Regions from separate parts of the Homo sapiens genome. Here region 1 is linked to region 2. Evidence: fine-mapped expression QTL. A gene starts in region 2. The other region holds a variant in brackets. All regions are shown on one strand. Distances are between the middles of the regions. Region 1 overlaps LOC124902610 (a long non-coding RNA gene). Region 2 holds the start of CTSD (cathepsin D).

Region 1 (8,326 bases), 22 kb before region 2:
ATGGTAGCTCACTGTAGCCTCAACCTCCTGAGCTTAAGTGATCCTCCCACCTCAGTCTCCCGAGCAGCTAGGACCACAGGCATGCACCACCATGCCCAGCTGATGAGGAACTTTTTAGATACAGGACCAAAAATATGGCCCATGAAAAAAGATGTGATAAGTTGGACTTATTAAAATTATAAACTTCTGCGGTGTAAAAGACACTGCTGAGAGAATGGAGTCACAAGGCACAGACTGGGAGAACATTTTGGTCAAACACATGTCTGATAACGACCTTGAATCCAAAATACATGAAGAACCCTTAAAATTCAGTAACTTAAAAAAGTCCGTGTAAGACGGTGCAAAAGGTACAAGCAGATGTCCTCCACCCCCAGAGAGGATCGACAGATGGGAAATAGGCATATGTTTAGCAAATCAAACCCCAAAATCTATAAAAAGGATAATACTCATGACCAAGTGAGATTTATCCTGGGAATGCCAGGTTATTTTATGATGTTTTAAAACTCAACGAGGGCCGGGCGCGGTGGCTCACACCTGTAATCCCAGCACTTTGGGAGGCCGAGGCGGGTGGATCACGAGGTCAGGAGATCGAGACCATCCTGGCTAACACGGTGAAACCCCGTCTCTGCTAAAAGCAAAAAAATACAAAAAATTAGCCGGTTATGGTGGCGGGCACCTGTGATCCCAGCTACTCGGGAGGCTGAGGCAGGAGAATGGCGTGAACCCGGGAGGTGGAGCTTGCAGTGAGCCGAGACTGTGCCACTGCACTCCAGCCTGGGCAACAGAGTGAGACTCTGCCTCAAAAAATATATAAATAAATAAAAATAAAAAAAATAAAAAACCTCAATGAATTTAATTCACCATATTAACAGACTGAAAAAGAAAATGCCTGTGAACATCTCCACAGGTTCAGAAAAAGCTTTTCACAAAATCCAGTATCCATTCCTGATCAAAACTCCCAGCAAACAGAGAAGAAAAGGAAATGTCCTCATCCTGATTTTAAAAAATAAAACTATAGAAAAACCTACAGCGAGCATCATCCTGAATGGTGAAAAAGGAATGTTCTTCTCCTACGGTCGGGAACAAGACAAGAATGTCTGCTCTCACGACTTCCATTCAACATTCACTGGGGTTTAGCCAGTGCAAAGAAAACAAAATTTATCCAGATTGAAAAGGAAACACAAACGTCTTTATTTTCCAAAGACATGATCATTGTTGAAGAAAAACCTACAAAATCTATGAGAAAGTTACTAAAACTGATAACTTAGTTTAGCAGGGTTGTAGGATAGGTCAATGGACAAATATCAATTGTATTTCTATATAACAGCGACGAACATTCGAAGTTGATTTTATATTTTTTATTTTTTTTTTGAGAAGGAGTCTTGCCATGTCACCCAGGCTGCAGTGCAGTGGTACAATCTCAGCTCACTGCGACCTCCACCACCCGGGCTCCAGCAACTCTCCTGCCTCAGCCTTCTTAGTAGCTGGGATTACGGGTGTGCACTACCACGCCCAGCTAATTTTTGTATTTTTAGTAGGGAGGGGTTTCACCATATTGGCCAGGCTGGTCTTGAACTCTTGACCTCAGGTGCTCTGCCTGCCTTAGCCTCCCAAAGTGCTGGGATTACAGGCATGAGCCACTGTGCCTAGCCCAAAATTGATGTTTAAAACGGCCATTTAGAAGAAAATTGAAAATAGATATTTCAGGATAAATTTGACAAATATGTCCAAGACTTGTACTCTGACATTCTAAATACACTAAGCAAAAGTAAAATACTAAGCAAATGGAGAGAGATATACAGTGTTCATGGATAGAATCAATATTGTCAACATGTCAGTTGTTCCCAAAGTGATCTGTAGAATCAACCCAATCCAAATCAAAATCTCAAGACAGTTTTTTTTTGTTTTTTTTTTTTAGAAATGGGCAAGCTGATTTTTTTTTTTTTTTTTTTTTGAGACTGAGTCTCACTCTGTCGCCCAGGCTGGAGTGCAGTGGTGCGATCTCAGCTCACTGCAAGCTCTGCCTCCCAGGTTCATGCCAGTCTCCTGCCTCAGCCTCCCAAGTAGCTGGGACTACAGGCGCCTGCCACCATGCCCGGCTAAGTTTTTTGTATTTTTAGTAGAGACGGGGTTTCACCATGTTAGCCAAGATGGTCTCAATCTCCTGACCTTGTGATCCGCCTGCCTCGGCCTCCCAAAGTGCTGGGATTACAGGTGTGAGCCACCACACCAGGCATGGACAAGCTGATTTTAAAATGTGTATCAAAATACAAAATATCTAAAATAACTAAAATCAGGCCAGGCATGGTGGCTCACGCCTGTAATCCCAGCACTTTGGGAGGCTGAGGCGGGTGGATCACCTGAGGTCAGGAGCTCAAGACAAGCCTGGCCAACATAGTGGAACCCTGTCTCTACTAAAAATACAAAAATTAGCCTGGTGTGGTGGCGTGCACCTGTAATCCCTGCTACTCAGGAGGCTGAGGCAGGAGAATCACTTAAAACTGGGAGGCGGAGGTTGTAGTGAGCCGAGATGGGGCCACTGCACTCCAGCCTGGGTGACAGAGGGAGACTTTGTCTCAAAAAATAATAATAATAATAATAGTTAAGGCTGTACAGTGCTGGTATAAAGACACACAAATAGATAAATGGGTCAGAATAGAGTGCCCAGAAATAGATCCACATGCGTATGGACAACTGAATTCAACCAAATTGCCAAGGCAATTAAATGAAGAAAAGGCTTTTCAACAAATGATGTTGGAACAACTGGATAGTCATAACAATGAACTCCAACCCTTACCTCACGTGATACACAAAAACTAACTCAAAATGGATGATAGGCCTTATTGGAAGAGATAAAGCTATAACACTTCTAACAGAAAACATAGGTGAAAATCTTACTGATCTTGAGTGTAGCAAAGATTTATTAAACACAACAAACACTGTTAAAGGAAAAAAAAAGAAAAGGAAAGGCTGGGTGCGGTTGCTCATGCCTGTAATCCCAGCACTTTGGGAGGCCAAGGCAGGCGGATCATGTGAGGTCAGGAGTTCAAGACCAGCCTGGCCAACATGGAGAAACCCCATCTCTACTAAAATACAAAAATTAGCCGTGCATGGTGGTGGGCGCCTGTAGTCCCAGCTACTTGGGAGGCTGAGGCAGGAGAATCGCTTGAACCCAGGAGGCGTCGGTTGCAGTGAGCCGAGATCGTGCCATTGCACTCTAGCCTGGGCAACAGAATGAGACTCCATCTCAAAAAAAAAAAAAAAATTGCCCACATATCTTCCATGCAACCCAGCAAACCCACTCCTAGATATTTACACAAGAGAAGCAAAAGCAGGTGTCAACACAGACTTGTATGTGAGTGTTCCTAGCAGCTTCACTTGTAATAGCCAAAAACTGGAATCCTCCCAAAATGCCATGAACAGTTAGATGGAGAAACAGATTGTGCCTGTGATGGAACACTATTCTGCAATCATAATGAAGGAGGTATTGATTGCGATAGGCAGAACAATGGTCCCCCAAAAGATGCTCATGCCCTAATCCCTGGAAGCTGGGAATATATTAGGTTTATGCTGAAGGGGAATTAAGGTTGCAGAGGGAATTAAGGTTGCTAAGCAGCTGACCTTAAATAGAGAGATTATCCTGGATGATCTGAATAAGCAATGTGATCACAAGGTGCTTAAAAATGGAAGGAGGCAGAAGAGGAGGTCAGAGTGCCGGGATGTGGGAAGGACCAGCCCGGCCAATGCTGGCTTTGAAGATGGAGGTGGGCCGCCAGCCAAGGAATGCAGGCAGCCTTGGGAGCTGGAGGATCAGGGACATGGATTTTCCATCTGAGCCTCCAGAGAAAGCACAGTCATTCCTGTTGACACCTTGATTTTGGCCTAGGGAGACCCACTTCTTCAGAATTCCGGCCTCCAGAATTGTAAGGTTAATAGATTTGTGTTGTTTTAAGCCACTCACTGTGTGGCAATTTGTGACAGCAGCCGAGAGAAAGTGAACACATAGACACATGCATGACACAAATACATCTCAAAATAATCATGCTGAACACACTGATATATGCAGTGACATGGTTACATCTTAAAATAATTACGCCGAGTGAAACAAACCAGAAAAAAAATAAGCACGTGCCGTCTGACTTCATCTATATAACGTTCTAGAAATGGAAACTCATCTACAGAAAGCAGAACAGTAGTTTTCTAGGAACCGGCAGGGTTGGG[G/T]GTGGGGAAGAGGGGGGAACAGGGAGGGATGGTCAACGTGTCACAGCGGAGGCTGTGGAGGGAAGCTCATGATCTCGACCGCGGAGATGCGTTCAACAGTGTGCACAGGTCTCAAAATCGGTCAAGTGGCACACTTTAGGCAAATGCAGTTGATTGTCCATCTGTTATCCAGTCATTCGCCGGGTAACCACGGGGGAACGTGTCCTAAGGCAATTTCATGGTTGTGAGAACATTGCAGAGTGCACTTACACAAACCCAGATGGTGTGGCCTGCCACACACGCAGGCTGCACGGTACAGCCTACTGCTCCTAGGGGGCAGGCCTGCAGGGCTGGGCACTGTGCTGAATCCTGCAGGCAACACAATGGTAAGCATTTGTGTATCTAAACACAGAGAAGGCAGCTCATTGTGCTACAGCCTTAGGAGGCCTACGACGGCACTAGGCGACGGAAACTTTTCAACCCCGTTATAGTCAGACGGAACCGCCAGGGTCTAAGTAGCCCATTATACTTCAAATAAAATGATAAAAAGGCTGAGTGCTGTGACTTACACCTATAATCTTAGCACTCTGGGAGGCCGAGGAAGGAGGACTGCTTGAGACCAGGAGTTTGAGACCAACATGGACAACATAGTGAGACCCCGTCTGTACAAAAAATTAAATTAAAAAATTAGCCAAGCGTGGTGGTGCATGTCTGTGATCCCAGCTACTCAGGAGGCTGAGATGGGAGGATCACTTGAGCTCAGGAGGTTAAGGCTGCAGTGAACTATGATCACAGCACTGCACTCCACTCTGGGCGATAGAGGGAGACCTTGTCTCCAAAAAAAAAAAAAAAAAAAAGGTAAAAAACAGTTTTAACCACTTAAGCTGGCAACAGTAAAAATGGGGTCAGATGGTTCAAAAGAAGTGCACCAGAGGTTGATTTGGGCTACGGGGAGACCCAGCCTCATTGAGGGACTGGGGAGGCTCCTCTGGGAGCAGCATCTGGGGCCGGATCTGTGGGACAGTAGCAGTCAGTGCACTGGGAGGAGGCGTCCGCAGACAGCGAGCTGGGCAGAGGGTCAGCGCTCGCTGGGCAGAGGCCACGTGGGGAAGAGTTCCTGGGGTGAGCGGGCGCCACCAAGGTCAGCAGGGGACCAAGACCACAAGGGACCTTGGGCCCCAGAACTCTGTTCCCGTAGCCAAGTGCGCTGGAAATCACAGAGAGTCCCGGGGCAGAGCAATGGGATCAGACAAGCCTTTAAACGAGTACCTCTGCCGACTGCACCATGGTGAGCAAACCGTAAGGGCCCCAGCTCTGCAGAGGAGAGAGGATGGGTGGGCCCAGGTGGGCACCTGCCAGGAGAAGGGGTCTGGGAGAAGCGGGGTTGGGAAGGTGCGGTGTTTGTGGTGAGAAGGGAGTTAAATCACTGTCTGAGACGGAAACAACACAGAGGGGGTGCCAGTCCGCCTGCCAGGGTGCCGGTGAGTGCAGGGAGAATCTGCTGCAAGGCCTGGCTACCTCGGGATGTGGGCATGAAAGCCAGGCAGAGGGTACTGGGGCCCTGTTAGGGGTTCAGTCACGTCCCCCAAAATTCATGTGTTGAAGCCCTGATCCCCAGGACCTCAGAATGCAGCTGTATTTGGAGATGGGTCTTTACAGAGGTGAACAAGTTAAAACGAGGTCTTCAGGGTGGGCCCTAATCCCATAGGCCTGGTGTCCTTGTAAAAAGTGGAAATTAGGACACAGATGCACACAGAGGTGTGGCCCTGTGGGGACACAGGGAGAAGGAGGCCCCAGGAGAAGCCAGCCCTGCCCACACCTTGATCTCAGACTCCAGCCTCCAGAATGTGAAAAAATCGATGTCTGTTGTTTAACCTGCGCAGTCTGTGGTCTCTGTTCGGGCAGCTCTAAGCAAATTCACCCGCTGCTTTTCCGAACGAACCTCCGAGAGCTAGCTGAGTCCATCGCTAAGTCCATGTATAACTCTGCGGTGGGCCCATCGGAGCTGGGGACCAGGAGGACCCTGCTGATCCTGGGCGGCCGATGGTGATGCGGCAAAGGTGGCAGGAACGGATGTGGGTGGGGAGGAGGGACAGCGTCCTGAGCACGGCAGACAGCCAGGGTCAGCTGGGAGAATTGGGGTTCATTTGGGGTGGAGCGTGGGTGGGGCCAGCAAGAGCCTGCAGCACAGGACGCAGGGCCACCCTCAGGCCCTTGTGGATGCTGCTTGTGTCTCTGGGCCCAGGGACGAGGCCGCTGAGGCTGCCTCTGGCGGTGCTGCCCACCTCAGACTGGGATGTGCCAGGCAGCCTGAGTGTGGGGTGCTGTGGGGGAGCCACCAGAGTCATCAGCCCCAGCTCTGCTCTCACCAGCGGCTGGGAAGGGAGAGACGGCCACTCTCATCTCCTCCCCCAGTGAGGGAGTGGGTGGAACCTCTGTGGAGATGCCTGCTGGGCATCTTGGTTCCCTCCTCTGCCTGGAGGGCAGGTGCGGCTGGGCCCCGGGCCAAGGACTCCTGAGTCTGGACCTGGGGGCTCTGCTTAGTGACCAAGCTAGGGAGGATAAAAACAGGAGCCAGAGGGGCCTGGGAGAGCTGAGGAAGAGTGACCACCAGGGCCCAGCCAGGGATGGGGGCTGTGGGGGCCTAGGGCCAGAGCAGGCTGGGGGCCCTGGGCTGGGAGGGGAGACTCCTGCCCACCACGTCACTTGGGATGGGTGGGAGCTCCAGCTTGGGTGCCAGGCACAGGGTGAAAATCCTGACTCCGTGACTTCATGGCTGCTGGACCTGCCCTGCCTCTGTCTTCTTGCTGTGAAATGGGATCAAGTTTCTGTCTCTGTCAAAGGTGGAGCGGATGCCCCATCCTCAGCACTCTCCACACGACATTCTGCCAGGCGATGGGGTGGATACTTGGGGAGGTCCATGAGTCGGGGCTTAAGGCAGGAGAGGAACAAAGAGTGGAATACGTGGAGTGACTGCAGTCCCTGCGGTTGAGAGGTGCCCAGACGGCAGGACTTTCGGTTTTACAAAGGTCAGCTGGTCACCCGGCACAAGGTCTGTATTAGTCTCTGACTAATTAACTGCTGTGGCAGATTACACAAACACAGTGGCTTAAAGCAACGTAAATCTATCATCTTGCAGTTTGGGAGGTCACAAGTCCCACGTGGTTTTCAAGGAGCTAACATTAAGATGCCTGCAGGGCGGTTCCCTTCCGGAGCCTCTAAAAGCAAATCCATCTCTCCCTGTGTCTCCCATTCCCAGAGGCCGCCAGCATTCCCTGACTCACGGTCCCCTCCTCCGACTTCAAGTCCAGCAGTGGCATCTTCTAGTCTCCTGTGGCTCTGACCCTCCCCAGCTCCTATCCTGATGCTTGTGATTGCCCTGAGCCTGTCCGGATATTCCAGAACAATCTCCCATCCCATGTGCCTCGACTTAACCACATCTGGAGGCCCCTTTGTCACGTAGGTCCCGGTGATTAGAATGTAGACATCTTCGGGGACCCTTTTCAGCCCAGCAAAAGAACAAAGGATTGGGTAGCAGGAAGGGGCAGGGAAAGACGTGGAGGGGCCGTGGGCAGAGGCTGGGTACTATTGAGGGGTCCAGAGACAGGAGGATGGGGTGAAGGGGGACTCCTGCCCTGCTCCCTGGTGAGATGAGGGGCCTGGCTCCACTCGCCGCAGGCCGGACCCACAGAGGTCGGGAGATAATCCTGCTTTGCTGGGCATTGCGGCAAGCGCCTTCTCTTTCAGGGCAGGCAGTGGTGTGTGGCTGGCACCCCTGGGGCACTGGGGTTTTCCCAGATGAGGATACAGAGGAGGGGCATCCCTGGCCCAAGTATGAGCCACTGTGGGGAGGGGGCTGCTAGCTAGAACGGCATCCTGCCCATGGGGGAGTGTGGGGCGGGGACCAGAGCCCTCTGTCCACTAGGGCTGTGTCCAGGGCACAGGGGAGGAGGACCCACAACGACTGTAGGGGGACAGCAGGGACACCGCCCGTCACCCCAACAGGGATGTGACTTTTGCAAAACTGCACAGGCAGCAAAAAAGCAAGATTGGGAGGTGTTGCACTGTCCTTTTGCAACTTCCTCTGTGAGCATCAGGATTTTCTCATCTGGGGCAAGGGATCAAG
Region 2 (8,326 bases):
GACCCCCGTCCTGTGGCTGGCTTCCCAGAGAGAAGCTTGGGGCCCCTCCGTGGTGGGAAGCTCAGTGGGCTGCGATGGCAAAGGCTGAGATGGAGCCTGGGCCTGGCCCCCACCTCCTGCCTCCTCTCCCCAGGTGGGCCGAGCACCCCACAGATGGAGCCCATGTCCCTGCATGCGGTCAGCCGAAGGGTGTGAAAGGTGAAAAAGGGCCCTGTCCCCTGCACTCTGCCAGAGGCGGGGCCTGGACACGCTGCAGCACCCACTGGCCCAGGAGCCCTGAAGGCAGCCCTGGTGGGAAGAGGGTCTCCTGAATCGGCCTGGCAGGTGCAGGAGTCTGGGGAATCTGAGCCAGACAAGGAGGCCAGGGGTCGCTTCTGTACCCTCAGCTCCTAGCAGGGGCAGGCAAGGGCTCCAGAGACCGTTAGCCCAACCTCAACTCTCCAGGGACAGAGGTGAGGCCCAGATTGAGAGGGTCTGCCCGGGTGAGCCAGAGGCAAGGGGATTAGAAGCCACTCCCTTGACCTTCACCCAATATGCCAGCAGGGTCCCACCCTGCCTGGTGGGTCAGTCCCTCGGGGACCCTGAACACCCAGGCATTCATCCCACACATAATTACTGGGCACCTACCACGTGCCGGGCTCTGCTCCAGGAGCTGGGAAGCTGAGCGGGCCCAGGCAGAATGCCCCCTCTGTAATAAACAGAATAACAGATGGTATCTGCGGTGGGGTGGGGCCTCTTCACCCTTGGGGCCCCGAGAGGGTCCTTGCTCAACAGTGCCCCGTTGTCTCAGGGGATGGTCCAAGGCTCTTAGCCTGGCTAGCACCGGCCCACACACCCCACAGCTCGCTGCCACGTTGTGCTTCTGGCCCCACTGGCCATCCGCACTACCCACTGGCTCGCAGCCTCACCGGCTCACCGGGACCTCTGGGTGGAGTGTCGGCCACGCTCTGTGGGCATGCGTCCTCACAGGTGCGTATCTCAGTATCCTGGACACCAAATGCTTCGTCCACCACTGGACCTGGGGACCGAGCAGGGTGGCTCAGGGGACACTAGCTGGGACCATCTTTCACCCCTTGCTGGAGTCCAGTCCCCCAGGGTCGGCTGACATCTCCAAGATCCCAGCCCACTGGAAAGCACGTGATAACCCCAGGTGCCAGGTCCAGGCTGGCCGTGGGCCCCCAACAGCTGGGCGGATTCTGAGGGCAAGGTGTGGACCCCCAGCAGCTGGGCAGATTCTGAGGGCAAGGGTGTCTGTCTGCTCGGGCTTCTGTGTTCAGGCTTAGAACCCCCTCAGATGAAGGGCTCTAAATGGGCGGGAAGGTGGGGCTGAGGGGGCAGCCACTCATTTGTGGCCATCAGGCAGATCCAGCTTCGGGGAGGTTCCGCAAGGGCCAAGGTCCTGATATATTTGGTTACAGAAAAGGTGGGAATTCCAATCCCGCCCGCCGAGAACCACAGAACCTCACTGCCTCTGTAAAGCGGGGTTGGGCCCATCTACCTCGCAGGGAGCTGGGAGGAGAAAACGCACCCTGGGTGAGAGCATGGGGAAGCATCCTTCATTTGGGTCCAAGCTCAGATGCCACCTTCTTGGAGGGACCTTCCTGCGGAGGTCGCTGTTGAGCACATCCCCTGGCTCCATTTCCTGTGTGACTTGGACCTGCCTTAAATGATTTGTCCCAATATCCCTTTCCTACTTACAGCGACCGCACCTCCCGCCTGGCTGTGTGCTCCAGAGCATCTGGGGAATGACCGGGCCCTCCCCTCCAACAGGCCTAATTCAGTCCCCCATGCCAGGCAGGACCAGGGCACACGAGAATGGTGAAGTCCTGGGGCAACTGTCACCATGGCCTCTGCAGGCTCAGTGTCGGGAGACCCAGTTTCTGACCTGGATACACTGCTCACCTTTGAGGTCGGGGCCTAGAGGGACGGTGCCACGTTGGAGACAGGCCTCCAGGGACAGTGCCACGTTGAAGACGGGGTTCCAGGGACGGTGCCACGTTAGAGATGGGGTTCCAGGGACAGTGCCACGTTGAAGACGGGGTTCCAGGGACGGTGCCACGTTGGAGATGGGGTTCCAGGGATGGTGCCACATTGGAGATGGGCAAGTCTGGGCTAAGGGAGGAGGGCCCAGGGTGGCCAGGGCAGGGCCCAGTGAGGTGCTGCTCTGAGGAGGTGGAGAGTGGGCGCTTGGGCAGGGGACACTTGGAGAGTAAGGATGAGGTCCATCTGGGTACCCTGGGTATAGGGAGTGTTGTTGAAAAAAAGCCAAACACTATAAAATATTTGAAGATATTTATTCTGAGCAAATGTGAGGACTATGACCTGTGAAACCACCTCAGCAGGTCCTGAGAATATGTGAGCAAGGTGGCTGGGTAACAGCTTGGCTTTATACTTTTTTTTAAAATTTTCAGGTCTTTTCTGTAGAGACAGGGTCTCACCATGTTGCCCAGGCTGATCTCAAGCTCTTCAGCTCAAGCAATGCTCCCACCTTGGCCTCCGAGTATGCTGGGATTATAGGCAACAGTCACCATGCCCGGCCTGGTTTTACGGATTTTACAGAGACAGATGTTACAGGCCAAAACCATAAATCAACATATGTAAGATATACATTGGTTCAGCCTAGAAACAGGGTTGGCAGGGGCAGCTTCCAGGTCATAGGGGATTCAAAGATTTCCTGATTGGCAAGTGGTTGAAAGAGTTATGTTTTGCCTAAAGAGTTAAAGTGGGATTACTCACGCCTGTAATCCCAGCACTTTGGAAGGCTGAGGCAGGCAGATCACCTGAGGTCAGGAGTTCGAGACCAGCCTGGCCAACATGGTGAAACACCATCTCTACTAAAAATACAAAACATATATACACATATACATGTATATATATATACACATATACATGTATATATATACACATATACATGTATATATATACACATATACATGTATATATATACACATATACATGTATATATATACACATATACATGTATATATATACACATATATACACATATACATGTATATATACACATATATACACATATACATATATGTATATACATATATAGTGTATATATATACGTATATATATGTGTATATATACACTATATATGTGTGTGTGTGTATATATATATATACATACGTGTGTGTATATATACATATTAGCCAGGCGTGGTAGCACGCGCCTGTAATCCCAGCTACTTAGGAGGCTGAGGCAGGAGAATCGCTTGAACCCAGGAGGTAGAGGTTGCAGTGAGCCGAGATCATGCCACTGCACTCCAGCCTGGGCCACAGAGCGAGATTCTGTCTCAAAAAAAAAAAAAAAAAAAAAAGAGTTGACGTGAGTGGACAAAAGGTGCCCGACCTCCTAAGGGAAGGAGCTTCTCTAGAAAACGCGAATTTCGCCCCCTCAAGAGACAGCTGTGCAGTGCCATATCAAAACATGTGAAAGGAATGTATTTTAGGGTGGAATACTTTGCCTGCCTTCGGGCCTGCTGTCTGCCACGTGAGGCTGTGCCAGTGTGAGGCTGGAATTTGGGATCTGGAGGCTAGAGCCATCGGTGAGGCCTGAGTCTCTAAGCACAGCGCCCAGAGGGAGAGGGCGGAGCGGGTCCGACCCCCTTTGCGGCAGGGCCTGAGCTGGTTTTCCAGGTTTCTCTGGAAGCCCTGTAGAGGAGCGGAGGGTCCATTCGGTGGGCTGGGGACTTTGAATTTAACCTTGGTTTGCAAGAGGCTTCCAGAGAGGATGTCTGGGAGCGTCTCGGAGGGGGACGAGGGGGCGCCGGGAGGAGCAGGTGCAGGAGCCCACGGCGCAGCGCCCCGCGCAGGCCTGGACGCGGGGACGGCCGCGGCGGCCGGGACAGGGGTCACCCCGCGGGGCCCTCCAGGGTGGGCCGCCCCACGACCCCAGGCCAGGCCGAAACGGGAATCCTCCAGACCCCAGAAGCTGGGCCGGGCTGACCCCGCGGGCGCGAGCGGCGGGAACTGTAGGCGCGGCAGGCGCACCACCACCCCGCCCCCCGCCCGGGCGCTGTGCGCGTGCGCCGAGGTTGCCCCGCCCAGGCCAGGCCCCGCTCCGCCCCGCCCCGCGCACGCCGGCCGCGCCCACGTGACCGGTCCGGGTGCAAACACGCGGGTCAGCTGATCCGGCCCAACTGCGGCGTCATCCCGGCTATAAGCGCACGGCCTCGGCGACCCTCTCCGACCCGGCCGCCGCCGCCATGCAGCCCTCCAGCCTTCTGCCGCTCGCCCTCTGCCTGCTGGCTGCACCCGCCTCCGCGCTCGTCAGGTGAAGCCTCAGGGGCCGGGGCTCAGGGACGGGCAGGGGTCGCGGCGCCGAGGTCCCGGGGCCTGTGGTGACTTTCGCGCTCCCCTGTGGCCCCCACGAGCCCCTTGCGCCCCCCGCGCTGGAATGCACCTGTGCCGCCCTGCGCGGCCTCCTGCACGGACCACCCGCCTACGGGGCGCCGGGCTCCGGAGGTGCAGGGGACCCGGGGCAGAGGCGCCAGATGCCTCTCCCCCATATGCCACCCTGGGTTGTACCTTGAGGACTGCAGACTGACCGCAGCCTCCCTGGAGACGGGGCGGGGCGGGGGGAGGTAGTGCTCATTCGGGGCAGGTGGAATTGGGGTCTGTACTGAGCGCCCTTGTTGCTGGAGACCTAGGTCAGGCCTCAGAGCCCCCGAGTCTGGGCGAGTCCATTTCCTTAGGGACCCCTTTACCACCTGTGAACTGGGGGCTTTAAAAGTTTGCTCCAGCGGCTCTTATCACAGGCCCTGGGCTGGGAGACCCCTCGAGACCCTAGGAGTTCCCATGTCCCTGAGAGAGGAGGAGGCATGGGGAGTGGGTCGGCTCACCCACCCCGGGCCTGGGGTTGTGCTGTAGTGAGGCCCACACGCTCCTCAGGCCGATCCCCTGTGCCAGGTGAGGCCACCGATTGGGCCTGGATGGGATGGGGCCCGGCCATGCCTGACCAGCTGGGCAGAGGAGGGCCATGCTGCAGTCTGCTTTCTTGACCCCCTCCCCAGCCCTTGCAAGGCAGCCCGCATTCCCAGGAGGGGTATGCTGACCCATCCCATTGGGCACCTGCCCCACCCTTGCTCTGGGCCTTTGTGGGAGACCTGGGATCTGCGATGGGTCCACTGCCTTTTGGCAGGTGGGTGAGGTCAGAAGGCTGCAGGGGCTGGAGCTGGCTGGGCCAGCTGGGTAGGACTGAGCCTCACCAAAGGCTGTGGGGAATGGCCCGGGGGCGGGTAGCCCCAATTAAAGTCGTTGTGGGGGAGTAGCCACAAGCCTGAGCCTGCCTTGACCTTGCCAGCCTATCCACAGGCCTCCCCTCTCCAAGGAGGACAGACACAGCAGAGGGGAAACGATCCTGGGGCTTCTTGGAGGGAAGGGTAGCTGAATCCAAGCCCTCACCCGATTCCAGCTCTTGTGCGACTGATACTATTACACCTGCTTCCTGGTCCCTGGAGGGCGTGTCCCTCCCCCAGGACAAAACCTGGAGCTCTTCCAGCCCACCAGCTCTTAGGCAATAATCTCATCTTCCGGGATCACGCCCCTGACAAGCCAGGAAAAGCCAGCTATGACCTTGTACTCTCAAGTCCCTGGGGCAGGGAAGAGGTTTTATTTAAGTGATTAAAAGCCCAGGGGAGCTTCCTTGGAACAAGGAGTGGGTTCACACCAAGGGGAAGGCCAGTGGCCCTGGGGGAGGAGCAGGGACCCCTCTCTCTCTTACTCGCTTCCTGGGTTTAGAACTCAGGACCCCGATCTCAGTCTGGAGCTCCCTCCTGCACCCTGGCTGGCGGTGTGCTGGGTGACAGGACTCTGGAGGGGTACCCTGAGTGCAGCTGTCGGAGGAGGCAGGGCGGTGGGGGGGGCAGCACAGAAGCCTCTAAGGCCCCAGGTGCAGTCCTGGACCTCGTGGAGCCGCATGGAGTGAGGAGAGGTGCGGATGCCCAGAAACAGATGTGGGATGAGGGCACTGGGCAGCCACAGGGTCCATGTGGAGGAGGACAGGTAGTCAAGGAGGGCTTCTGGAGGTGGTGTGGAGGGCCCATCTGATGGCCAGAGGAGGCCAGGCAGAGCTGCCAGTGCCAGCCTGGAGGTGGGGCCACCTTCGTGCAGGTGTCTGGGGGTGGAGAGCAGGTGTGATGGGGGCTGGGTACAGTGGGCTGCCTCAGAGCACTTTGGGCAGGAGTGACAGGTACCCGCCAGCACCCTGAGCAGCCATGCTGGCCACCATCCTGGAAGAGACCAGCGCAGGTGCAGAGGGAGGACGGGAGACCCTTGGGGGCTTTGGAGCCTCCAGAATGGCTGAGGAGAGGAGGGTTGGGCACACTGGCCCCCAGGTTGGGTGTGTGGGGCTGAGGTGGGTGGCGGGTGACCACTTCTTAGGACTGTGGCCTGTGCAACCTGGCGGGGGGCAATGGGTTGCCATTCACTGACTTGGGGGAGCTGGGCCAGCAGTTTCCAGGTGACAGGCAGGAGTTTGGTTTTGGCTGTGGCGACTCTGAGATTCCCCAGGGGCCTCCAGGTGGATGTGCAGCATTGGCAGCGTCGGCCGGCAGGCGGGAGGGCCTCCCTGATATGCCCCGACCCGTGGTTGACAGGATCCCGCTGCACAAGTTCACGTCCATCCGCCGGACCATGTCGGAGGTTGGGGGCTCTGTGGAGGACCTGATTGCCAAAGGCCCCGTCTCAAAGTACTCCCAGGCGGTGCCAGCCGTGACCGAGGGGCCCATTCCCGAGGTGCTCAAGAACTACATGGACGTGAGTATGAGGTCTTAGCCCTGCTGCAAGCGGAGCCACTGTCAGGAGAGCTCCGTGGCAGTATGGGGAACATTCCCACCTCCTGTTCTCAGCAGCGCAGTTTGAGTGGCTCACCTGGCCACGGTGGCGTCCCGGCTCAGCCACACTCCTTTCTTCCCCATTCTGGAACCTCCTGCCACTGGCCCCTGTCATTGCAGGGTCTTGGTCCTGCTAGGGCCTGGGAGGGTGATTGGGAGTGGCCTCGGGCCTTGGTGCCAGCTCGCCTGAGGGGGCGGTCCTTGGGCCTGCCTGAGTGTGGCCGGCTGACCTGGAGCCTTTCACTGCTGTCCTGCTGGGAGGCCTGTGGTGACTCGTGGCCTCCCCAGCCCCTCCCCATCTTCTTCCTCTCGCAACAGCCCCTCCTGTGCCCACTACTCCTTCAGGGGGAAGCAGGATCCAAGGTGGAGCACTCTGGAAGCCACCTAGCAAGCTGGGGCTTGGTCAGCCTGGTCCCAGCTCTATGGGGTCAGTTCGAGGCCAGGGCCTACTGTCCAGCCTCGGGGCTCTGGCCCACTGTGGGGGAGCCTTGCCCTCTGTCCTGCTTGGCCCGAGTCCTGGCTGTGACAGGAAGCCCAAGACTCACAGGCATGTGACTGGGCCAGGGGGGCCCTGGGGGGAACCAGGCGCCGTGTGCCTGGTCCCGACTGGCCAGTTCCTGATTGTCCTAGCGCGCGAGCAAGCAGATGCACGCATGCGCACACATGCACACACACACATGGAAATTTGCTGAGTGTCCCCCTGCCAGTGGTCACTTCTGTGGGGCCATGAGTCAGCAGCTGCTGCTGCTCCGTGAAGCCAGGCGGTTGGAGAAACATTGGGCTGGGCTGGTGCCAGGAATCTGGTGGCTGACGGTGGCCCAGGCTCCAATCCTGGGGGAAGCGGGCGCCCAGGCGACCCCAAACTCCAGGACCCTCTTACTCTCTGCCTCCTGAGAGGCTCGGCGGCATGGGACCCCTTGTACTTGCCTGATCCCTGAGTCAGCACCCCCACCTGCGCCTGCTATCCCTGTGTACACACGGGGAAACTGAGGCCCTGGGCCATTAAGGCAGGGTTGCTGGGCAGGCAGTGATTGTAAGGCTTACCTTCTCCCCTTGACCAGCTGAACCCCTCTGCCTGGAAGCCCTCCAAGCCTGGGGTTCACCCTGGAGGGCAGGGCAGGCACTGAGACACCCAGAATCAGACCTTGACATGGCCCCAACCTGGGGAGGAAGTCACTTCCTTTCTCAGACCTTGGACTGCGGGCCACCAGGGGAGTCTTCCAGGCCGGGCTTTCCTGCACCCGGGGCTCAGGCTGAGGGCCACGTCTGTCCCCACCCTGGCTTGACCTCTGGCCTTGTCTTTTCCGTGGGGAAGTCCTCAGCCTCACCATGTATTGAGCAGGGGTAGGTGACAGAAGCCAGGGGTCTAGAGACCCCAAGTACCCGTGGGCATTAGGACCGAGGGCTGGGGACCTGGCCCATCTTCCCTGCAGGCTGAGCAGGTGGGAGTGGGTGGCTGTTGGCAGCTGTGGGCCCCGTGATGCC

Evidence for each region. PIP is the estimated chance that this variant, and not a neighbour inherited with it, causes the effect.
Region 1: its variant is fine-mapped to the expression of CTSD in whole blood (TOPMed, PIP 0.92).

Annotation. Positions count from the first base shown.
Region 1 is chr11:1,782,079-1,790,404 of GRCh38, reverse strand. The region is part of intron 1 of LOC124902610 (a long non-coding RNA gene); the gene reads right to left. Among named protein-coding and RNA genes, the nearest start is that of CTSD, 22 kb to the right of the region's middle. The variant G/T (reference allele first, on the strand shown) is at 4,222.
Region 2 is chr11:1,759,747-1,768,072 of GRCh38, reverse strand. CTSD (cathepsin D) reads left to right here and starts at 4,146. Exons shown (of 9, transcript NM_001909.5): 1 at 4,146-4,281; 2 at 6,605-6,764. The coding sequence starts at 4,214. PRADX (PRC2 and DDX5 associated lncRNA) reads right to left here and starts at 7,725. Exons shown (of 2, transcript NR_182291.1): 1 at 6,879-7,725; 2 at 5,587-6,754. RefSeq lists silencers at 3,767-4,236, 4,487-4,576.